Homo sapiens: one gene and its partners. The protein of the gene in region 3 purifies or fractionates together with the protein of the main gene of each other region. This does not show direct contact. Each region holds a gene or a part of one and is shown on either strand. Other genes may lie near its edges. The genes, in order: OMA1, APOOL, SLC15A1 and IPO11.

Region 1 (7,039 bases), on a different chromosome or scaffold from region 3:
TTAACTACTTCCTTCTTGTTAGGAGGAAGTGCCTGCCACCATTTCCTTATGCCCCTAAAGCAAAAAGAAAAATTCAAAGTTCTGAAAATCATTCCAGCACATATCACTAAAGCTCAAATGCATACACTAGAATTTTACGTCCTCAAATACCTGAATTTGTATGATGTATTTCGCTGAATACATCGCTTTTCCAATTAATAAAATTCTTAGCTAAATGATGAAAAAATAATCAATGATGTAAAGTTACAGTTAAAAAATTCTAATACTCATCGAAATTTTCTTCTTCAGCTATTTTAAGGATAAACACTAAATGAGATGCTAGTTTACTATAACTACCACTGGTTAATATTTATTACTATCTAGTACATGCAAAATTCTCTCTCTCTCTCTCTCTCTCTGTATATATATATATACCATCTCATTTAATCTTCATAATAACCCTGTTACAGAAGATAAAATTGTTAGGTAACTTGTCCATGGCCACTGAGGTAATAAAAGGAAAACCAAGCAATGAAGGCAATGACATTCCAGAGTCTGACCACTTAGCCACTTAATAGGGATAAATGCCTAAATAATTATGTAAGAGGTTACAGTACAATAAATCTATACCTGGAACCACTACTTTTCCCACTGCTCCTCAGACCTCCAACACAATTTGCCAGTGATTCCACAAGGTACAAGGGAAACTGCCTCAGCATTCATTTTGGAAATAAATAGTGCTCAGTAGCAGAAACTCCACTATCCTCTTTACAACGTGAAAAAGGAGAGATAACAAGATCCTAGGTATTCATAAGAAAGTGGGAGATTTTATAGATAACATCTGAGAAGGTCCAATTTCTACCAGGCAACAATACTCTCTGCCACTTAGCAGTGTTCAGAAACATTTTGACAACAAGCAATGTTTTCAATACTGGGACAAAAATTTTCCTTATGAGTTGATCTGTAAAATCACAACAAAAATTTACCATATATACATCATTCTCTTGACAAAAATTTATTTTACAAATTCTTAAAGTTCTCTTTGTGAAGTGACACACCCCAATGCCTTTACACAAAGTGTGTCCATTTAAAGGGACATAAATCAAACTATCGAGTATACTTATTTCCTATTTAAAACTTTACATGACATTATCCTTTATTTAAAATGTATGAAAGACATATTCTAAATGAAAAATTTTAGGTGATCAACAATAGTAACAAAAACAAGAAAGTTACAAATAAATAATTTAAAAGGATGAGGACATAGCAGAAATCAGAAAGAGCATCCGAAGAACCTGGGATGAGCGTATTACTTCAACCAATAGTCAATACAGCTGTATCGCTTTTGGGTGCCAACACCAAATCATGAAAAACACAATAAGTTACAAATAGAAGTTCTTGGTTTTTGATCAAAAGCAAACTGGTTTGGTTCATGTGGTAGTAAGAAGGCTAGAAGGGACTTCACAGTCATCAAACACAAGAAAGCTTTATGAAGAAACAGTGATTAGCTTTCTTCCATCTTCATAAAACAAACAAGAGAAAAAGGGTTAAAGCACTACAAGCTGTGAAAATATTATTATAAAGGATCACCAAGGAAAAAAACAAAGATTTGTTGGGAACAGAATAGAAAGAAAAGAAGCATTAATGACTTAAGAGTTAACTAGGAGTGAGCCCACCCTTATATAAGCAAAGTTCCTCAATTTTATGATTTGCTGCCTTAAATTCCACAAATTAAAAAGAAATGTTTGTAAGTACTCTTCTTATACATAAGTGATAACCAGCACTTCTGATCCATATATCCTAAGATTTTGTAGTCATAAATATAAGATTTTTTTAATGCCTATACAAAATGTAAGAATAACTTTTTAAAGAGATATTTCTATACCATAAATTAGTATGCAGGAAATTGTTTCAAGATTATTAAATCATACAGAACAAAATTGGGCAGGACCTACTGTTTAGAAACTTCACTTTGAGCTAAATGGGGGGAGACAGGGGATCTGGCAAGGTTTCTTTAAAAGTACAGTTTTATAAATAAAAAAATTAATTTCTAAAAGTTAATACGTTAGCACAAAATATTAATGCAAAAAGTTAATATAAAAGTTTTTATTCTAAAAAAGCATTTTACCTGCCTACAATGATTGCAAATAACTTCTGTACTGGTTTAAGAATCATCAACAAGAGAGGAACCGGAGCAGCTTGAAACCGTGGAGAAGTATGGAAATTCCTAATAGCTCTTATGGAAGCAGGGCTTAGAGGATGCAATACTGACAGACTAGGGACTGCTGTAACTTCTTTTATTAGCAGCTGTCTTGAAAAAGCATCATTCCATACAGTACATTTGCTGGTAATCCTCCAAATTTCCTTACTTTTGGTACTTGAGAGGCCTCCTGTTCTTTTGTTGTTAAAAGTACTATAAAAATGAAAGTTTCCAGGCAGAAAACTCCACCTGTCACACTGATTTACTCCCAGTCCCTGATACTTATTTACTATATGGTTAACTTGTACTTGATGACAGCCCCGTGAGGTGGATGCTAATGTGTTACATTTTCTCCAGTTAGACAGTGAATTAAATCGGAAGAAAACATGGTTTCTAGCAGCAGACTGCAATCCACAGATGAAGCTCATTTTTTCACTTGACTACCTGAAACAAAAAAAAAACTATAAATATCTGTGGAAAATATTTACTTACCAAACTGGGACTATAACACTTATTAAATAGGCGTGTCAGTTGTTCTTCTAACACATCTCAGGCTAAATTACCTTGGGTTTCAACTCATCACCCCTAGAGCAACGCCTTTCAGCAAGATAAACCAGAGTATATATACCACGATATTTACTATGCAACGTTTACTTTAGAAGCTTGAATTTTTTTCATTTCATTTTTAATTTTTAGTTAGGGAAGAGCCATTTGTATTTTAATGGCAAATGATTTGAGCAATAAAGTGGATTAGATAAAAACAACAGTAAAACTTTATCAGTTTGCAATAACTGGAAGGAAGCATGTGATACAGAATAGTAAAATCTAACTTATAAAATGCACTGGACATTACGCAATGAAGAACAGTGATCCCTAACAGATGGGAAACAGAGCCCTACAACTGTCCTAGCTTATTGCCTGGAGAGTGCTTCCAGGCCACAATGCAGACAGGGTAAACCTAGGTGGAGCCCAGTGGTTCCCCTAAATCGAAGAGATAAAGCTGGGAGGTCAAGTAAACCAAGGTTGCTAGAGCTCACAGGACAGAGGACAAGAGAAGACAAGAGCTGCACAGAGAAATAACTCTAGAGTTCTGCAGAGAATCCCCCTCCCATATTCAGCTGAGTCCTGTCTGGGCATATGTGTAAGAAAATTCCCTGGAGCTGGGAAAGGGCCACCTGAAAAGATTGCAGGGAATAATATACAGGGCTCACACAGGGCATGGTATACTGCCTATCCCCTCCCCACCATTCAAAGTGGAAAACCTTATCATTCGTGGGTAGAGTACTCAGAAGGGTTTTGCCTCAACATTAGAGAAAGATTAGTCTGAGACCGAAAGCTGCTCTGGCCCCACCTAACAAATATTAAAAGCAACCCCCAAAAAGATTAAATGCTTCCAAGCAACAACTGCATCCCAGGAAAAAAAAAAAATCTAAACAGGTATTAGGACACAAAACTATTTAACACTTAACAAGGTGCAATTTATAATTAAAAATCACCAAGCATGCAAGCAGCAAGATATGTGATCCACAATTAGAAGAAATATCAATCAGTGGAAACTAACTCCTAAATAAACAAATAACAGCATTAGTAGATAAGGATATTAGTTATTGTAACTATACTGCACATGTTTAAGAAGCTAAAGGAAAATATGAGCATGTTATGTAGAGATATGTAATATATTTCTTTAAAAGACCTAAACTTTTAGACAAGAAAACTGTAAGAACTAAGATGAAAAACATACTAGATGAGACTAACAGCAGATTAACATTGTAGAAATAAAGATTTGTGACTTTGAAGACGTATCAATAGAAACCATCTAAAATGAAATACAGAGAAAAAATACAATAATAAAAAAAGGCACAGGGCATCAATGAGGTATGCAATAACTTCAAGTGGCCTAATATTCATCTAACTGAAGTCCCCAAAAAGCGGGGAGGAGGTGTAGACAGAAAAAAAAAACACTTGAAATAATGGCCAAAAGTTTTCCAAACTTGATGAAAATTATAAAACCACAAATTCAAAAAGTTTAACAAATCCTACACAAAAGAAACACAAAGGAAAAAAACTACAAGGCACATAACTTCTTAAAATCAATGAAAGATAAAATCTTAAACTTGACATCTTAGGTGAACTGTATAAATTCATTGAAAAACACAAAAAAAGCTGGGCATGGTGGCTCACGCCTGTAATCCCAGCACTTTGGGAGGCCGAGGCAGGTGGATCATTTGAGGTCAGGCATTCGAGGCGTGAAACCCCGTCTCTACTAAAAATACAAAAATTAGGCAGGTGTGGTGGCACTTGCCTGTAATCCCAGCTACTCAGGAGGCTGAGGCAGGAGAATCGCTTGAACCCGGGAGGCGGAGGTTGCAGTGAGCCGAGATGACGCCACTGCATTCCAGCCTGGGCAACAGAGTGAGACTCTGTCTCAAAAAAAAAAAAAAAAAAAAAAAAAAAAAAAAAAAAAAAACAGGAAAAACACAAGAAAGTACATACTCTGATTACATCTCTATAATATAAACTGCAAAAAATGCAAACTAATCCATAGTGACAGAGAGATGAGTGACTGCTTGAGGAGTTGTAGGAAAAAAGCAGCAGGGGAAGGGATTACAAAGAGTGGTGCTTGCCTGTAAACCCAGCTACTTGGGAGGCTGAGGCAGGAGAATCACTTGAACCTGGGAGGCAAGAGACTGCAGTGAGCCAAAATTGTGCCACTACACTCCGGCGTGGGCAACAGAATGAGAACCTGTCAAAAAAAAAAAAAAAAAAAAAAAAAAACCAAAAACAAAAAACAAAAAAACCCAGATTGAGGGAATCTAAATATGAATTGAATTTCAAGTTGTTTTAGGTAATTATTATTTTCTTAGGTGATAATATTGTGGTTATCTGACTATTTTATTCCTGAGATACTTGCTGAAGGATCTGTTCATGATAAATAAAACTCACTTTCAAATTGTACAGCAAAGGTACACACACAAAGGACATAAAGTCAATAAACAAAATATCAGCAATCATTGTATCTCAGTGATAGTTACATATGTGTTCCTTAAATTTTTCTGCATGTTTCAAAATCTTCATATAAAAGTTGGGGAAAAAAATATGTAAACTTCAACCTAAGCTAATACGATATTATCTAGAAAGATGCTCCAGGACTACCAGTTTTAATAGTATTATCTATATATCAAACCATTTGAAAATTACTCAAATTTATTTTTTATGTAATTCATACATCCTGCCCTTGCACTGTTAATGTATAATGTTAATAAAGGGCATGCTAAGTAAAACATTAACTTTGAGTTAACCCTTTTTGAAATACAACCAATTTTAAATTAGTAAAGTCCAGGCTGATATATAATAGTTTGACATTATTAACAAGATACTTTGTTTTTACTTTTTTGAACCAAGCTGAAAAATTGTTAAATAATTTAAGCCTAGAAGTCATTTCACAATTCATACTGGAGTAGCTAGTAAGGTTTTCATTGGCTAGGGGCCATGAGAGTTATGCAGCACAGAATATAGTCCTGCTCTCATGGAGGTTATAATCTAGTTGGGGAGACAAAACTGAACCTAAGTAAGACTATTAGGGGATAATAAAATTCAGTTATTAAATACTACATACTGTATGCATTCTTAAAAAGACATCCATGAGTAGCTGAAGAGTTCAGGAAGGCAGCAATTATTTTTCATGCCATTTAGGCAGATGCAGAAAGACAAAAAAAAATGGAAAGAACTGTTTTAAATGGGAAAGTGTTTTAAGGTTTAAATGTAAAGTCTTCTTCTAGAAGTCAAACTGCAAAAACAACCCAAGCCCACTTTCTTTCCTTGACCTCAAATCTGATGATTTACTGTAGTAGATAAGCTTCAGACACTTGCCCAAGCACAAGTCCTTTTCCAAATGTGCATCTTACAGCCTCATTTTAGGGGACAGGCTTAGACGGCCACATTCATCCCTAGCAACCCCTACCATTAGCTACAGAGCTAGGAGTAGGTATTTGATACTGAAAAGATTTTACATAAAACAGTATTCCGCACAGGAATATAAGGGCATGTGTAAGTTGGGTCTACAGCGGGTGCTATGGCTAAACAAAGCAATATGAAAGCAAGAACTACAAACAAAAAGCTTTTTTAAAAAAAAAAAAGTGGATCCACAGAAAAGACAATGGACTATTAAGTGTAGACAGAAGATAAGTGAGAGACCACAAAGCCAGAGTGAATATGAGAGAATAAGACCTCCCTGATTCCCATGAAACCATTGTACTTCCTACACTTAATTGAGCTTCATGAGCTTTTACTTTATCCCCAAAATAATGCGCTTTCTTCAATGAGTTTCTGTATTCTGCAAATAAATGATCTCTAAGACGTTTACATGGTATAAAACAGTTATACATTTGTTTTTGTAAATTGACAGCATTTTAATATTATACATGTTGTTTACTGGAACTAGCTGAGGGTTCCTCCTACACTTTGCAAAGCCAAATTTACCAATTTTCAACATTTAATCAGTTCCAGAAATACTGGATTATCTCTACAGCAACTTTAGCATCCAAAATATCTCAGCCCACATTAAATCAGTCATGTCAATTCTACCTCCTTCTTATCTCATTCTAGCCTTTCCTGGGCTCTGTGGTCTTATGGTGTTGATCACTACCCACCTAATCTCCCTGCCTTATTTCACCACTAACCCCTCCCACTACAGTTTGACCCCAAACTAGAGCTAAAGCATTATTTCTAAAATGCAAACCCTGGCAACAGAATCCTACCCCGACAATTAACATACAGTCCTACCCTGGTAAATACCAGGTAATCATTTAAAAAATGACATGATGATCTGTAAATCTTTAAAAGATTTAAAAGATAGCAATC
Region 2 (6,874 bases), on a different chromosome or scaffold from region 3:
TCATACCATGTGATTTCAGATCCAGCTCTACCACTTTACTCCTGTGTGACCTTGGAGTTACTTGACCTTTTTAAGCTTCTGTTTCCCTACCTGTAAAAAGTGATTAATATAAATTCCTACTCATAGGGCCAATGTGAAACATAAATGAGAGAATCCACATAAAGTGCTTAGCAAAATTCCTAGCACGTAGTCAATATTCAATAACACAATAGCTGTAAATACTATTATCTTTCCCTCTAGATACCTCCTGGTACATTTTCCCTTGTCTCCAAAGTAGCTCAAGTCTTCTGTCTCCTGTTTTGTTTTTAGTTTTTTTTTTTTTTAATTAAAAGACACCTTTTCTGGAATTTGCTACCCTCATTCCAAGATTTTGTTCCTTCTTTTCACCACCAAACTTCTCTAAAGAGTAATGTATAACTCCTTTCCAGAGGAAGCAAGGAGGAGTGGAAAGACTTTGGAGATAAATATACTGTTTGAACCTAGTTCTTCCACTTAGTGGTTGTATGACCTGGAGCAAGCAGTTTTTCTAAGCCTCCGTTTTTCCATCTGTAAAATGGATATATTACCCATTTCTTAGGGTCATCAAGAGGATTAAACTAAAATAATATATGTAAATCATCTGGCCAAAGTGGGTGCTAAATGAATGCCAGTTCTCCATCCCTTATTCTTTTCTTAACCCCATACAATCTTGGTTGTTCCTCTACCACTCTATTTATCTCTTTAGCTCACTTCAGCTCTTATTAGCATGGTTTTGAATAATCTGACTTCTCTAAACCTTAATTTTCATGTGTAAAATGGTAATAATACCCACCACATAAAGTTGTCTTGAGAATTAGTGAATTAACACATGTAACGTGTTTTAGCATAGTGCCTGGCCTGGAGTAAGCACTTAATAAATGATAACAGCAGCAACTTATTAATGGTGAAATCAAAGGACTGTTCAACTCTCTTCTTCTCAATGAAAACACACTATTCTGGTTTGCTTTTTGCCACTGACCATTCCTTCTGTCTCTGCACCTTCTCCATGAAGCCTCTTTTTACTCTCTTCAAACCAAGTGTGAGCTCTCTCCTTTTGAGCGTCAGAGCACTTTGTACTTCTCTTCAGGTAAGAAACTCCCCTTACTCTGAATCACAGTCATTTGTGTTATATGTGTTATATCTCCACCACTTAATCTCTTCTGTCCTCATTGCCTGGCACTTTATTCATGTAGAACATGTTGACTACCTAATATACATCAGACCTGTGCTAGGTACTACGGATACAAAGGTTAATATAATTACTGTCTTCAAGGAGCTTATAGTTTAGGTAGCTAGAACAGACAAGTAAGTAGTCTATATGTGCAGTGGAATAAATGCTTGGTTAAGAGTGTGCCCAGAGTCCTCTGGGAGCACAAACAAGAGTTATTAAAATAGACTGGCGAGGACCGGGCGTGGTGGCTCACGCCTGTAATCCCAGTACTTTGGGAGGCCCGGGGGGGGGGGGGGGTGAATCACGAGGTCAGGAGTTCGAGACCAGCGTGACCAACATGGTGAAACCCCGTCTCTACTAAAAAATAAAAATAAAAAAATTTAGCCGGGCATGGTTGGCATGCGCCTGTAGTCCCAGCTACTCAGGAGACTGAGGCAGGAGAATCGCCTGAACCCGGGAGGTGGAGGTTGCAGTGAGCTGAGATCGCGCCACTGCACTCAAGCCTGGGAGACAGAGAGAGACTCCGTCTCAAAAATAAAAAATAAAATAAAATAAAATAGACTGGGGAGATCAAGGACACTATTAAACAAGGCATTTTTGTGTTTTGCATATGGGGAGGCTGTACACAAATAGCTGCTGAATGAATGAATGAACTATAAATACAACTAGATAAGCATGGGAAAAGGCACTTTAGGCCCAGAGAAAGAGCACGTAAAAAAGCATGGCGGGGTCAAGCAAGCAGCTCAGTATCGACAGGAGGAGGGTTCCTGAGTGACAAGAGATGAGGCTGGAAAGTCTAGGTAAAATCAGATGTTCTAGACATAAGAGTATGGCCTGACCCCAGAGGGGAGATGATGACATGCCCATAAAATTTTTTAAATGCGGGGGGAGGCAAAAATCAAATTTGCATTTTGGTAGATGTACTCTGGCAACACAGAGGAAAACAGATTACATGAGAGCCAGGCTTGAGGTGGCAAGTTCAGGTAGGAGGTTGTTCAAATAACTCAGATGAAGTATGAGAACCAGAACTGTAGACGCTGCCGACTTAAAACTTCAGCGGAACTGAATTATTCATACTGTATCTCCTGCAAGCCTAACAGAATATTTTACAATTAAAACCCGCTACGTAAATATCTGTAGACTACCATTATTAAACACTACTTAGGGAACTGCAGCAAGCTGCCAGCTGAGTCACTCACTGTACACGGACTCCCAAGTAAAGGCACCTTTCCCAAGCGTAAAACTCGAAAGGAACAGGTTATTCGAGCACAGAAAGCAACAACACTATGTGTAAACCAGCGCACTGCTGAAAGACTATGGGACCTCTCTATCCTGGTCAGTTTCACCCCAAATGTTTCAACAAAGTCCTTCCATAGGGTCATGTGGCCTTGCCCTGTGCGCCGAGACAAATGCCAAGTTTATATATATATTTTTCTCTTTATTGCAGCTGAAGACCGAAACGTCTACTGCGGCTCGTCGCCTGGCCAGCCATTTTCACCCAGCCGTTTCCCAGTTTTGTACTGTGCCACTGTGTAAATCGACAACCACAGGGGATTGAGGGAGCAGCGTCCCAGGCTGATAAAACCCTAATGGGGAAAGGCAGGTGTCTTGAGGCTTCAAACGATAAAGATTGCAATTATCTCAAAACCCACCTCCACCCTGCCCCTTGTTTCAGGGCTCCTTCAGAAGTTAGTAGGATCCCTTTTACAGTTACCGGGATGCTATCGGCACCCACAGAAATTAAGCAAGTTGGTTTTCGCTTACCCTGATGGCCGCCATGTCTACAACCCTTTCGGCCAAGGTTTTCAGACGGAGAGCAGAGAGGGACAAATCAGTTCGACTAGGCTTCCCTTAGGACAGCCCCACCCCGTTACGCCCCTTGCCTGCCAGTTACCGCCTTTTCTCCGCCCTCCTCCAGCCGCCTTGGCAACTGCTGCGGTTTCGGTCAGCTGTCTTCTGGAGAAACTGTTCACCCCTGTGGTTGACCCTCCCGGTCCCAGATAAAGCCTTCCAGAACATTATCAATAGTCCAGTTGGGAGTTATTTTCCTGGGTGCAGAACTTTTAATTATTTTGTTTCGGGCATATGTGATATGTCCAGATAAGGACTTAATACCCAAATGTAGCTGCTTTAATAATTAATTATATAGTAAGAAAAACAACTTATTACCTCTGCGAAACATGGGTAAGTTCATTCATTCTAAAACTAAGTCACGGAGAGCATACTCTGTGCCGGGCAGTTGTTCGGGGCATAGACAAAACATAGTGGCTTCCTCACAGAGCTTATGATTACAGGAGTAAAAGAGACAAATGAGGCCGGCGCGGTGGCTCACGCCTGTAATCCTGGCACTTTGGGAGGCCGAGACGGGCGGATCACGAGGTCAGGAGATCGAGACCATCCTGGCTAACACGGTGAAACTCCGTCTCTACTAAAAGTACAAAAAAAATTAGCCGGGCGTAGTAGCGGGCGCCTGCAGTCCCAGCTACTCGGGAGGCTGAGGCAGGAGACTGGCGTGAACCCGGGAGGCGGAGCTTGCAGTAAGCGGAGATCGCGCCACTGCACTTCAGCCTGGGCGACAGAGCGAGACTCCGTCTCAAAAAAATAAATAAATAAATAAAAATAAATAATAAATTTTAAAAAAGAGACAAATGCTATGAAGGAAAATAAAACAGTATGGGAATGAGGTGGGAGTTTACTGGTTTATATCAATGAGAGAAAGACTCTGATAAGCTCATTTGATAAAAGTCCTGGAGGAATTTAGAGAAGAGGGTTGCATACGGAAGGAACAGCAATGAAAAAGTCCAGTGAGGCTGGAGCAATAATTTCAGAGGTAGCGAAGTAACACAGTGTAGGGGCTTTCGTGCCGCCAAAATAAATTTGGATTTTATGCTGAATAAGATGGGAAATCATTGGAGGATTTTGAGCAAAGGTGTGATGTGATCTAATTTACATTTTTAAAGGATGATTTTGGTGCTATCAGGAGAATATACTAAGGGTATATTGCAATATTCACAACAGGAGCAAGGTCTGCTGTAGGCCTCCCTGAAGGATTCTGAGGAAAGAAGATGCTCATAATATGCCCATTAACAGTCCCAATATTAATTCATGTATTCATTCATTCAATCAACAAATATTTATTATGTGCAAACTATATACTAGGCATTAGTTGATACCTATCACATTTCATACCCAAAACAGATCCTTTTTAACAGAACTGTCCTGTAAATGACAAAATTATTTTAAGAAATAATGATGAAATGAAACTAATAATACTGGCTACAAAAGAAACATTGAGTGACTATTTTCTTTTATTGAACTTAATATAAACATATACATACATATATATGCCAATATAAAAATAAAATGCAAAATAAATAGTACAGAACCAAAAAAGGAAAAAAATGGATCAAGGTGTTTTAATTGCATTAATGTATTTTTCAAAGGAAAAATACTTATATCTACATAGTGGTCTGCCACAGGAATGAATAATAATATTACAGTTTCTGTTTTTGAGCCTTAACCTCTGTGTATTTGTCAATAATTTCATCCAAATTTAACATTTCTGCATATTAAATAAATGGTATACCTAGATTTGTCAAGCTAACTTTGTTCATAACTGATTGATGCACACTTTTTATTGATTTTAATATCAGTCAGGTTTATTTCACAATAATCAACAGGCAAATAAGAAAAGTCTTAAAATTGTGAATAAGCTTAGAATAAATTTATAACAATCTTATTTCCCAAAAATTTCAGGAATTTCAATAACACCCATGTTTTGTTGTTGTAGTTGTTGTTGTTGCTTCTTTTCCAACTTTAACTTTTATTTTGGGTTTGGGTACATGTGCCGGTTTGTTATACAGGAAAATTGCATGTCAAGTGGGTTTGACATACAGATTATTTCCTCACCCAGGTAATAAGCATAGCACTTGATAGGTAGTTTTTCAATCCTCACATTCCTTCCACCTTCCACCGTCAAGTAGGCCCCAGTGTCTATTGTTTCCATCTTTATGTCTATGCATACTCACCATTTAGTTCCCACTTATAAGTCAGAACCTGCAGTATTTGGTTTTCTGTTCCTGCACTAGTTCACTGAGGATAATGGCTTCCAGCTCCACCCATGGTGCTGCCAAGGATATGATCTTATTCTTTTTTATGTTTTTGATGGCTGCATAGTATTCCATGGTATATATGTATCACATTTTCTTTATCCAGTCTACTGTTGATGGGCATTTAGGTTGAGTCAATGTCTTTGCTAGTGAGAATAGTGCTGTAATGAGCAGACCCATGCATGTGTCTTTATAGTAGAATGACTTATATTCCTTTGGGTATATACCCAATAATGGACTCCCTATTCAATAAATGGTGCTGGGAAAACTGGTGAGCCATAGGCAGAAGACTGAAACTGGACCCCTTCCTTATACTATAATAAAAAATTAACTCAAGATAGATTAAAGACTTAAATGTAAAACTCAAAACTATAAAAACCCTGAAAGACAACCTAGGCAATGCCATTCTGGACACAGGAACTAGCAAAGATTTCATGACAAAGACACCAAAATCATTGCAACAAAAGCAAAAACTGACAAATGGGATCTAATTAAACTAAAGAGCTTCTGCACAGCAAAAGAAACCATCAATAAACAGATAGCCTACAGAATGGGAGAAAATAATATCCAGCTTCTGTAAGGAATTTAAACAAATTTACAAGAAAATCAAACAACCCCATTAAAAAGTGGGCAAAGGACATGAACAGACACTTCTCAAAAGGAGATATACATGCGGCCAACAAGCATATGAAAAAAAGTTAAATATCAGTGATCATTAGAGAAATGTAAATCAAAATCACAATGAGATACCATCTCACACCAGTCAGAATGGCTATTATTAAAAAGTCAAAAAAATAACAGATGCTGGTGAGGTTGCAGAGAAAAGGGAACACTAATACACTGTTGGTGGGAGTGTAAATTAGTTCAACGATTATAGAAAGCAGTGTGGCAATTCCTCAAAGAGCTAGAAACAGAAATACCATTCAACTGAGCAATCCCATTACCGAGTAAATACACAAAAGAATGTAAATGGTTCTATCATGAAGACACATACACACATATGTTTATTGCAGCACTATTCCCAATAACAGACATGGAATCAACGTAAATGCCCAATCACTATAGACTGGGTAAAGAAAATGTGGTACATATATGCCATGAAATACTACACAGCCAAAAAAAGAATGATATCATGTCCTTTGAAGCAACATAGATGGAGCTGGAGGCCTTTATTTTAAACTAATGCAGGAACAGAAAACCAAATATCACATGCTCTCACTTATAAGCGGGAGCCAAATGATGAGAGCATGTGAACATAAAGAGGGGAACAACAGACATTGGGGCCCACTTGAGGGTAGAGGGTGGGAGGAGGGAGAGGGTCAGAAAAAATAACTATTTGGTGCTAGGCTTAGTACCTGGGTGATGAAATAATCTGTACAACAAACCCCTATAACACAATTTTACCTATATAACAAACCTGCACATGTACCCAAGAACCTAAAATAAAAGTTTTTAAAAAAGTAAATAAATAAAAACAATATTAACTTTTTCAATCCAAAAATAGAAAAAAATTCATAATTTCCTTACACTCATCTTTTCCTATATGAACAATCAAGAATAAATCAATGGAATGCAT
Region 3 (3,411 bases):
GTGGCAGGAAAGCCACAGAAGGGCAAGCTTGCAGCCCAGGGCAGCCTGCATTTGAGGGGAAGACTATGCCAGGCTGGGTGGCTTTGCTTGGAAGCTCTCCTGTAGAAATAGGATCAGCTCCTCCGTAGATGTGTCCATTTAACTAAGGGGACAGCTTTGCAAGGATGTGGAGCGTGAAACACAGGAATTCTTGTCTACTCGTCTGTGCATGTTTGGGTGTCTTGTTACTTAAGTGATGATCCTTTTTACATTGAGGCCACCTGACTTTTCGTGTGCATTGTTAGGGTGATCTGCTTCACGAAACGCCCATCGGTGAGCTGTGTTCTCCTGCTCGGAGGGTGAGACCTGGAGCAGGACTCACTTTGCTTTGCTTCCTCAGGCTCCTTCCAACATGAAGTCGGTGCTTCAGGCAGGATGGCTGCTGACCGTGGCTGTTGGCAACATCATTGTGCTCATCGTGGCAGGGGCAGGCCAGTTCAGCAAACAGGTATGGCGTGGGAGAGGAGATTGCACATACCTCTGTCTTTCCTGTTCATGGTCATCATGGTGGCCTTCCCTAGCCATCTGTGTGCTCTGTGTGGTCATCTAGGCTAATAGCTGGATTAAACTGCCAGACCAGCCAGGGCTGTTCCCAAATAGCCTTATGGCAAAGTGTCTGCTGTTTCTTCTTCTTCTTCTTTTTTTTTTTTTTTGAGACGGAGTCTCACTCTATTGCCCAGCTGGAGTGCAGTGGCGCAATCTTGGCTCACTGCAACCTCCGCCTCTCGGGTTCAAGTGATTCTTCTGCCTCAGCCTCCAGAGTAGCTGAGCCTACAGGCACCCACCACCACACCCGGCTAATGTTTGTATTTTTAGTAGAGACAGTGTTTCACCATGTTGGCCAGGATGGTCTCGATCTCTTGACCTCGCTATCTGCCCACCTTGGCCCCCCAAAGTGCTGGGAGGTGTGAGCCACTGCACCTGGCCTGATGATTCTTCTTATTCCCACTTGTTGTTAACGCAGCTGGAAATTGACAACCAAAATAGCTGGAATGGGTTAACTTGAAGTTGCCCTTATGTGTTTTACTATCAAGGGAAACATCTCTCCTAGCTTCAGTGAATGCAGCTTAGCAGCTGCAAAGCAGACACATGTTATCCTGGAACTTTCATAACACCTGAAGTTAAAGCCATCCTAGAGTTGGTTATAAATTTTCCAGCTAAAATTAAATGAGGGCTCTACTGATACTTACACTCTTTCCTTCTGCACTGTAGCATGTCTGCCTCATAAGGGAGCTGTTATCCCATCCGTTTCATGACTTCCTGCACCAGGTCCCAGCAGCAGATGTGCTAATGCTGTGTGCTTATGAGCTCCAGGTGTTTCCAAGGAGGAACGTGGGGCTCTTAACTTGCTGGAGTTCAGCATATTCATTTTTCCCTTGTGGGGACTGCTTGCTGTTCTCTTGGTCCCCATCCTTCCAGGTCCAGCCACATGTCTTAAGGCTTCAGTATTTCAGAAATTTTCTCTCATCTTCCCAAAGTCTGTTGTTTCTGTACCTTAGTGCTGTTCAAAACATGTTGTCTATATTAGCATCTATCTATCTTGGGCATTCCAGAAAAGCTGGGCTTACTGTATCTGTATTGGTTGCTTACCAATTTTCCATAATTTAATTTCAAAGCACTCTCCATCTGCATGTAGCAAGAACATGTACGCACCATATATTCATCAGTATGACCTGTTTTATTTTTGTTCTTTTTCCTGCTCCAACTCTGATTTCTTCAAAGTGGGCCGAGTACATTCTATTTGCCGCGTTGCTTCTGGTCGTCTGTGTAATTTTTGCCATCATGGCTCGGTTCTATACTTACATCAACCCAGCGGAGATCGAAGCTCAATTTGATGAGGATGAAAAGAAAAACAGACTGGAAAAGAGTAACCCATATTTCATGTCAGGGGCCAATTCACAGAAACAGATGTGAAGGTCAGGAGGCAAGTGGAGGATGGACTGGGCCCGCAGATGCCCTGACCTCTGCCCCCAGGTAGCAGGACACTCCATTGGATGGCCCCTGATGAGGAAGACTTCAGAATTGGGAACTAAACCATGAATGCTATTTTCTTTTTTCTTTTTCTTTTCTTTTTTTTTTTTTTTTTTTTTTTGAGACAGAGTTTTGCTCTTGTTGTCCAGGCTGGAGTGCAATGGCACGATCTCAGCTCACTGCAACCTCCGCCTCCCAGGTTCAAGTAATTCTCCTGCCTCAGCCTCCCGAGTGGCTGGGATTAGCGGCATGCACCACCACGCCCAGCTATTTTTGTATTTTTAGTAGAGATGGGGTTTCACCATGTTGGCCAGGATGGTCTCGATCTCTTGACCTGGTGATCTGCCCACCTCGGCCTGCCAAAGTGCTGGGATTACAGGCTTGAGCTACCGCGCCCGGCCGTGAACGCTATTTTCTAAGCAGCCAGCAGTGAATCTAAAACTCTGGAAGAAGTCTTCTGTTTGAAAGGCTTATTTAAGCCACACGTACACACACTGTCTTAGAGTACTGTGAGCCCACCCCACATTGGTCATCTTCCCTATCACACAAATGATGTTATTTTGGACTAGCTTAATTTTGAAATGGTAACAAAGTTTCCTATTCCATACTGTTCATTTCTAATACTCTTACGAAAACTATTCTAAAGGAGGCAGGAGCCAAGGCCAAAAGTGAACGTACAGGTTTGAAATGGCTGTGATAAGGACCAGCTGGTATTAACTGATAACTTTACCTTTGGGTTTTTGTTATTTTGTTTTTCTAGTCCCTACCTGTGTTTAAATTATGGATAACTCGAAAGACAGCTCAGGTGAAGGCCAGTAATGATTTTTTTGAAGTTTCAATGGTGTGAAATAAATTTCTGTTCTTAAGCCTAAGTGTTCATGTATCTCTGGGTAGGGTAAGAAATCTTTAACATCCTATCTGATTATAAAAGCAGCACCTGCTCATTAAAATTTCTTCCTGGTCCTGTTTTCCCCAGGGATGATTGATTGATTGGTTGATTGATACATAGGCAGACAAACAGATAAAGAAAGGTAGATAGGCAGATAGATAGATGATAGATAGATAGATTAGATAGATAGATGAACAGATAAAGGTAGGTAGGTAGATGATCGATAGATAGATAGACAGACAAACAGATAAAGGTAGGTAGGTAGATAGAAGATAGATAGATAGGCCGGGCACAGTGGCTCACGCCTGTAATCCCAGCACTTTGGGAGGTAGAGGCGGGTGGATCATGAGGTCAGGAGATCAAGACCATCCTGGCTAACACGGTGAAACCCCATCTCTACTAAAAATATAAAAAATTAGCTGGGTGTGGTGGCAGACGCCTGTAGTCCCAGCTACTGGGGAGGCTGAGGCAGGAGAATGGCGTGAACCTGGGAGGCGGAGCTTGCAGTGAGC
Region 4 (7,039 bases), on a different chromosome or scaffold from region 3:
TCTTCAGGAATCTGAGGCAGGAGGATTGTTTGAGCCCAGGAGGTTGAGGCTGCCGTGTGCCATGATGATGCCACTGCGTTCTAGCCTGGATTACAAAGCAAAACCCGTCTCTTAAAAAAAAAAAAAAAAAAATTAAAGATTCCCAACATTAAGTCAGACAGATAAGAAACTGTTTATAAGAAACTAAGAACTATATTCATATTAAATTATGACGTTTAATCTGAGTTTTTTTTCTTTTTTCTTTTTCTTTTTTTTTTTTTTTGAGACAGAATCTCACTCTGTTGCCCAGGCTGGAGTGCACTGGTGCATCTCGGCTCACTGCAAGCTCCGCCCCCTGGGTTCATGCCATTCTCCTGCCTCAGCCTCCCGAGTAGCTGGGAATACAGGCGCCCGCCACCACGCCCAGCTAATTTTTTGTTTATTTAGTAGAGACGGGGTTTCATCTTGTTAGCCAGGTTGGTCTCGATCTCCTGACCTCGTGAGCCACCCGCCTCGGCCTCCCTAAGTGCTGGGATTACAGGCGTGAGCCACTGTGCCTGGCCTTTTCTTTTGTTTAACTTGGGGTCGGAAAACAAATTTTTTCTTCATCTTTTAGTACATTGCTTGGGAAATAATTGTCATTACACAAATAGAAAATGTTTGTCAAACTGAAAGCTGCCATTCTTAAGCTAGAATTTTTTCCTTCTATATATTTCATTAGTAAAGTTTCTTTTGGTATGTTATTTCTCTTACCACTTCATGTGATTCTCAGAGACTAGCCCATTGCTTTCAGTTATAGGATACTTTTACAACGCATTTATTAATATGACAAATGTTTTGCCGTTACCAGATGTGATGTTTGAGCTCTTCTTTTTAAGATTTGCACTTACATAATTTACATAATTAGCTATTTGTCTTCTAAAAATGTTATCTTTAATGTTTTTAGATTCATAAACATACAGTTGTTAACCAGAGAGATTACTGGTGATTTTAAAACTTTAAAAAATTTCATTCCTTTAATTTTTAAAAGTTTCTTTTATGGAGAAGTTTAAACATATTAAAAAATAGAATAATATAATGAGCCCTTCATGATAAGCTAGTTTATTAGTTATCAACTCATGGCTACTTTAGCTTCCTGTAAACATCTCCCAGTGTTGATGGTTATCTGAGATGACACATCCTCTGACCATATTTCAGTGTGTATATTTATAATGTTCCTTTTAAAACACCACACAATACCTTAAAAATTTAATTAAAAAATTTAAATATTGTGAACGATCTAGTGATTAAATTCCTTTTTAAAATTTAAATAAAAAATTATTTTAAAAAATTTTTTGTGGGTACATAGTAGGTGTACATATTTATGGGGTACATGAGATGTTTTGATACCAGCATGCAATGTGAAATGATTCAGTACTTTTAAGAACCAAACAAATCATTTTTTTAAATGTAGCTAATGCTAATTTCTGTTACCGCTTGTGTTTGTTAAGAGAAAGGCTACTTTATTTGGCAAATTGGAGTTCCTGTTTTTGCTTATTATATCATTGCTAAGAAAATACATAATAGCTACTCGGGAGGCTGAAGCAGGGGAATCGCTTGAACCTGGGAGGTGGAGGTTGCAGTGAGCCGAAATCACACCACTGCACTCCAGCCTGGTGACAGAGTGAGACTGTGTCTCAAAAAAAAAAGAATCTTGGGTAGTCAGCCATTTATAGTACTGAGCTATAAATGAGTGGCTACAGAATGCTTTTTAAATTTAAGGTATGATTAATTTAAAATGTACACTTTGCTTGCCATAGTTTTAAGTTTTTGAATGCGTAATGACAAATAATTGAAATGAAATCAACTTTCTTTTATTAATTATAATTCGATTTTGTTTTCCTTTGTGTTGGTTATAAAAAAATGGTAACCTTACTTTTTTTTTTTAACAAATCAAAAGTTGGAAACATTTTCAAAGTTTTAGAATTTTAAGATTAAGTATTTGCTTTATTAAAGAATTAGTCAATATAGTATGCAACTGTTTTGATGAGAAATTTGTATTTTTCCCTCTCCAGCCATGCACTGAAGTATTATTTATAGATATATTCCATGAATATAATCAGACTCTTACTCCTGTACTTCTAGAAATGATGCAAACACTTCAAGGTAAGGCATATTTTGTGATTAACTTTGAGTTAATCTCTTTAACGTTTAGTTAAGAAATAGTCTGAGTGCCTACAATGCATACTGTACTGTTTCCTGGGTCATATAATAAATATGAATTTGAGAAAAACAATTTTAAAACTTATTATCTTCCAAGGGGGTGGCATTTGAGATAGGCCTTGAATTATAGTTTGGACGATGATAAATTTTCCTGTAGTAAATACAATAGAAGCAAAAGCAAAACAGTAGTCATACTGCTTGCAGAAAGTCTATCTGGAGCGTGTTGTGAGAAATAGTGAGAAAAGGTTAAAATAGTGTTAGCCTCTCTTAGAATGGTGGCAGTGGGAATGGAAATAATTGATTATGGATTTGAGAGAAAATGATGATGTAAATTTTTGACACTTGGTCATTACACTTTGTACACAAGTAACTAATTATCTGCCTATTAACTAACATTGATTTATGATTTCTGTCTTTTCTGCTAGACTGTAAGTCCTAGGGGCATTGATCACGTCTGTTTTGTTTATATTTTATTCCCAGTGCTGGGCATATTCAGTAACTATTGTTACTTGATTGACTTTTAGCAACCGATTGAATGTGCTAGGCAAGGAAAAGTGATCAAAGATGATCCTAAACTTTTGAGCCTTAATGACAAGGAAACAGTTACCTCATTAGAAGTGGTAGGAGATAGAGATATACTTTCGGAGTGCATGTATGTAAGGAGCCTTGGGAAAAGAAAAGAGGATCTTAAGGACAGAACCTGAGATTTTCACCTATAGGGATATGAGTAAATAAAAGCCTTGTAAAAATGCCAGGTGTAGTGGTGTATCCTAGAGAAGAGCATGTTGTCAGAATGAGTGTTGGCCAGGCATGGTGACTCACGCCTGTAATTCCAGCACTTTGGGAGGCTGAGGTGGGCAGATCACTTGAGCCCAGGAGTCCCAGACCAGCCTGGACAACATGGCAAAAACCTGTCGCTACAAAAATTAGGAAAATTAGCTGGGCCTGGTGGTTAGTACCTGTAGTCCTAGCTATTCAGAAGGCTGAGGTTGGAGGATCATTTGAGCGCAGGAGGATGAGGCTGCAGTGAACTGAGAAAACCTCACTCCACTGTACTCCAGCCTGGGTGACAAAGCAAGACCTTGTCTCAAAAAAAATAATTTTGTGGTATATAGCACATTAGCATTTTGTGGTGTATATTTTCTAGAATATTGCTTGTCATAACATTTTTCAAATATGCTATAATGGTTTTTAATCCTGTGTTCTCTAATGATAATCATAAAACTTAGACTTTCCCTTTGTACTTGTGTCCATTTTTGACACCATGAAATGTGTTATACTTAATTGAATTGGGAAACTAACAAATTGTGTTTAAATATAAATTTTTTAAAAAACTAGTTTTATTTGCTTTTACTGATACCTATTTATATATATATTTTTTAGGACCCACAAATGTGGAAGATATGAATGCACTGTTAATCAAAGATGCTGGTATGTTAAACTTAAGTGATTTAGAAGCATTTATTTATTCAGTAGATGGAGAGTCTGTTTTGTGGTAGATTTTGTGCTGAGGGTGTTGAGATACAAGAGTAACTAAAATACAGGAACAATCTGATTGGGGAGATAACCAAGTAAACAGATAATGTATTATAATAATACTATACAGGATAGTTAATGCTAAAGTAGGTGATGATCACCAGATAGTTTGGTGTGTCTAAGGAAAGATTCCCAAAGAAGTGTAATGGAAGAACACAAGGATAAGTAGGAGTTACACGTGTGAGGAGGTGGTGATGGAAAGAGGGTGTTGCATTCCAGGGAGATGGAGCAATAAGTACAAAGACTTGAAGGAAAGAGGAGGAAGCACAGTTAGAATTTGAATTGTGACTATTTTGGTTTAACTGGAACATTGGGGTTAAAGGTTGAGTTGAGGCTGGAGAGAGTTAAGTAGGGACCAGATCATAAAATATTACATCCATTTTAGAAGCAGGCATTATTTTATAATTTTTATAGTTGGACTTAAATATTTTAGAATGAATTGAATTATCTGTTTGAAAGTAGTAAGGAATATTTAGGAAAAACATGAAGTAAAATAGTGTTTCTAAAATAAATTATTTCTTCTACTTAAATTATTTCTACTTAAATAATTTCCCTGATTAGCATATTGTGTGTTTCCTTTAATTAACATATGTTTCATACACTCATTTGCAGATCTGATATCTGAAACCTTTAATTTTTTTTCTTAAATTTTCTTCTCAGTGTATAATGCTGTTGGATTAGCTGCTTATGAGCTCTTTGACAGTGTTGATTTTGATCAGTGGTTTAAAAACCAGCTTCTTCCAGAATTACAAGTCATTCACAATAGGCAAGTATAAAATTTTATATTTATTATACACTTACTTTACCTTATTTATTTTATTAATGAAGACAGGAAGGCATTAAAATGGCTTACAATTTAAAAAATGCAATCGTATAAGTTAGGTAATGTCTTATGTGGAAAGGAATAAGAATTTTGACATCTAGGAAGTATTTGATATATCAGGTAGTTTGCAGGAGAAAAGGAGGACTTTATGCAAAGATGAGGGAGGATGGAGGTCTCTGAGTTCAAGAAACTATGCCTAAGAAAAAGACAGTTCGAAACTTAGCAGGATGTATGCCTAGTGTCAGAAGTAGCCTAATCAAAGTAACATCTGTGAAAGATGAATGTCTTGGGATCACATAATGCATACTGCAAGTCTCTGGGGAGACGGTAGAGTAGGATATAGAGACATCATGGCAAAAATATTTGAATACCCTTTCTAAGTTCTAATTGAGGTACCTAATTAAATAGTACAGATTCATATTACATTTAGTAATATGAATTATGAAATGAATTAATTTAGTACATTTAATAGCACATTTGCCCAATTCTATTTTTTTTGAAATAGTCTCATTTTGTCACCCAGCCTGGAGTGCAGTGGTGCAATCTCAGCTCACTGCAACCTCCACCTCCCAGGTCCAAGCGATTCTTGTGCCTCAGTCTCCTGAGTAGCAGGGATTACAGGCGCATGCCACCACACCTGGCCAGCCCAATTCTTACGTTTTATATACATTTAAGCACTTGTCTACTTAAATTTTAGGTATTGAATGCATAAAATGAAAGGAAAAACCTCTTTCATAGTTTATAAAATTATTTCTTAGTTTAAAATTGGAGAATTTGAAAAAATTCTAAGGGGCTTTTTTCTTAATTTGAAGGATACACTTCTACTGATTCACTTCAGTATACCTGGGGCCTATCAGAATACTTAGCATATAGTCATAGATAGTTAATATTTGTTGACTAAACTAATGAATGCATAGGTCACATTTAGAGCCACAGAATTTGTAGAGCTGGAGATACTCTAAAAGTAATTCTTAACAGTAAGTAGCTGTTTATCTCTTCAGTTATTCAATCATTTATTCAGTTAACATATATTTTTAACACTTGGAATTTGCCATGTCCTATAGGCGGTGTTAAATAAAATAGACTCTGACTTAGTCTCAGGGAGCTAGTGAGCCTTTGATGGAGAGAAAGCTTTCATTGGCGAAACAAATGTGCAGTTTAGTTGTCCTTAAACCCTAGAGGCTATTTAGTGTAAGACCTTCACTGTCCAGTGCAGAAGCTCCCTACGTGTAGCTATTGAGCACTTGAAATGTGCTTAGTGCAACTGAGGCAACAACTTTCCAATTTTAATTAATTTAAATTTAAAATTTAAAGCCATGTAAAATATTTATTGATTACATGTTGAAATGATATTTTGGATATATTGGGATATGTAAAAATATTAATAAGTTTTTTTTTTTTTTTTTGAGATGGAGTCTTGCTCTGTTGCCCAGGCTGTAGTGCAGTGGCGCGATCTCGACTCACTGCAAGCTCTGCCTCCCGGGTTCATGCCGTTCTCCTGCCTCAGCCTCCCCAGTAGCTGGGACTACAGGTGCCCGCCACCATGCCCGGCTAATTTTTTTGTATTTTTTTTTAGTAGAGACGAGGTTTCACTGTGTTAGCCAGGATGATCTCGATCTCCTGACCTCGTGATCTGCCCGCCTTGGCCTCCCAAAGAATAAGATTTTGTTTCTTTTCTCTTATAATGTGGGTACTAAAAAATTAAAATAACATATGTGGCCTGCATTATATTTCTAATGGACAAAGCTGATGTAGACCAGTGTTTCTCAAACTTTAATGTACATATGAGTCACCTGGTAATCTTGTTAAAGTTTAGGTTTTGACTTAGTAGGTCTGGGAAAAATCAAGCAATGCACACATTAAATAGCAAAGTGATCTATACTTTTACTTCTGTTTGGATGTGTCTATGAGTTTGGAATTTTACCTTTCTGAGTTTCATATTCTTTATCTGGAACAGAGTCTAATATGGTCTTAGTCCCAAAATTGATGGTTCTTTGGTGCTTTTACCTCACTCTACACAAGTTGTTACTTCTGCCTCTGTCACTTGGTTCAAACAGTTTCTGTCCCTTGAAATGACATTTTTCCACCCTTTGGCTCCAATATTGTTTATCTCAAAGACTTGCTCAGATTCCGTCTGTCTCTGCCCATTTCTTCTCTTCCTTTTCTAAAGTCCTAGTACACTACTTTGTGTTTTTAAATTCCTTTAGGTGTGTTATAAACTTCTTGGGGGCAGGGAATACTTACATACTTTTTTTTGTAACTTTATTTATGTTATTTAATTTTTGAGATGGGGTCTCACTTTGTCACCCAGGCTAGAGTGCAGTGCCATGATGTTGGCCCACTGCAATCTCTGCTTCCTGGGCTCAAGTGATCCTCCCACCTCTGCCTCCTGAGCAGCTGGGACCACGATGTGTGCCACCATGCCCAGCTATTTTTGTGTAGTTTTGGTAGGGTTTTATCATATTGGCCAGGCTGGTCTCAAACTCCTGAGCTCAAGCC

Evidence for each region.
Region 1: the proteins of SLC15A1 (region 3) and OMA1 purify together in Homo sapiens (affinity purification with mass spectrometry; 2 studies listed by BioGRID and IntAct, with this or other methods). This does not show direct contact.
Region 2: the proteins of SLC15A1 (region 3) and APOOL purify together in Homo sapiens (affinity purification with mass spectrometry; 2 studies listed by BioGRID and IntAct, with this or other methods). This does not show direct contact.
Region 4: the proteins of SLC15A1 (region 3) and IPO11 purify together in Homo sapiens (affinity purification with mass spectrometry; 2 studies listed by BioGRID and IntAct, with this or other methods). This does not show direct contact.

The regions. Positions count from the first base shown.
Region 1 is NC_000001.11:58,536,688-58,543,726, forward strand, and holds part of OMA1 (metalloendopeptidase OMA1, mitochondrial precursor), read right to left. Parts: intron 2,624-7,039; 5' UTR 2,608-2,623; coding exon 2,108-2,607; intron 55-2,107; coding exon 1-54. UniProt on the Homo sapiens protein: Metalloprotease that is part of the quality control system in the inner membrane of mitochondria. Activated in response to various mitochondrial stress, leading to the proteolytic cleavage of target proteins, such as OPA1, UQCC3 and DELE1.
Region 2 is NC_000023.11:85,000,007-85,006,880, reverse strand, and holds the start of APOOL (MICOS complex subunit MIC27 precursor), read right to left. Parts: upstream 3,005-6,874; 5' UTR 2,969-3,004; coding exon 2,954-2,968; intron 1-2,953. UniProt on the Homo sapiens protein: Component of the MICOS complex, a large protein complex of the mitochondrial inner membrane that plays crucial roles in the maintenance of crista junctions, inner membrane architecture, and formation of contact sites to the outer membrane.
Region 3 is NC_000013.11:98,683,266-98,686,676, reverse strand, and holds the end of SLC15A1 (solute carrier family 15 member 1), read left to right. Parts: intron 1-379; coding exon 380-487; intron 488-1,761; coding exon 1,762-1,953; 3' UTR 1,954-2,876; downstream 2,877-3,411. UniProt on the Homo sapiens protein: Electrogenic proton-coupled amino-acid transporter that transports oligopeptides of 2 to 4 amino acids with a preference for dipeptides. Transports neutral and monovalently charged peptides with a proton to peptide stoichiometry of 1:1 or 2:1.
Region 4 is NC_000005.10:62,485,738-62,492,776, forward strand, and holds part of IPO11 (importin-11), read left to right. Parts: intron 1-2,033; coding exon 2,034-2,124; intron 2,125-3,564; coding exon 3,565-3,612; intron 3,613-4,377; coding exon 4,378-4,483; intron 4,484-7,039. UniProt on the Homo sapiens protein: Functions in nuclear protein import as nuclear transport receptor. Serves as receptor for nuclear localization signals (NLS) in cargo substrates.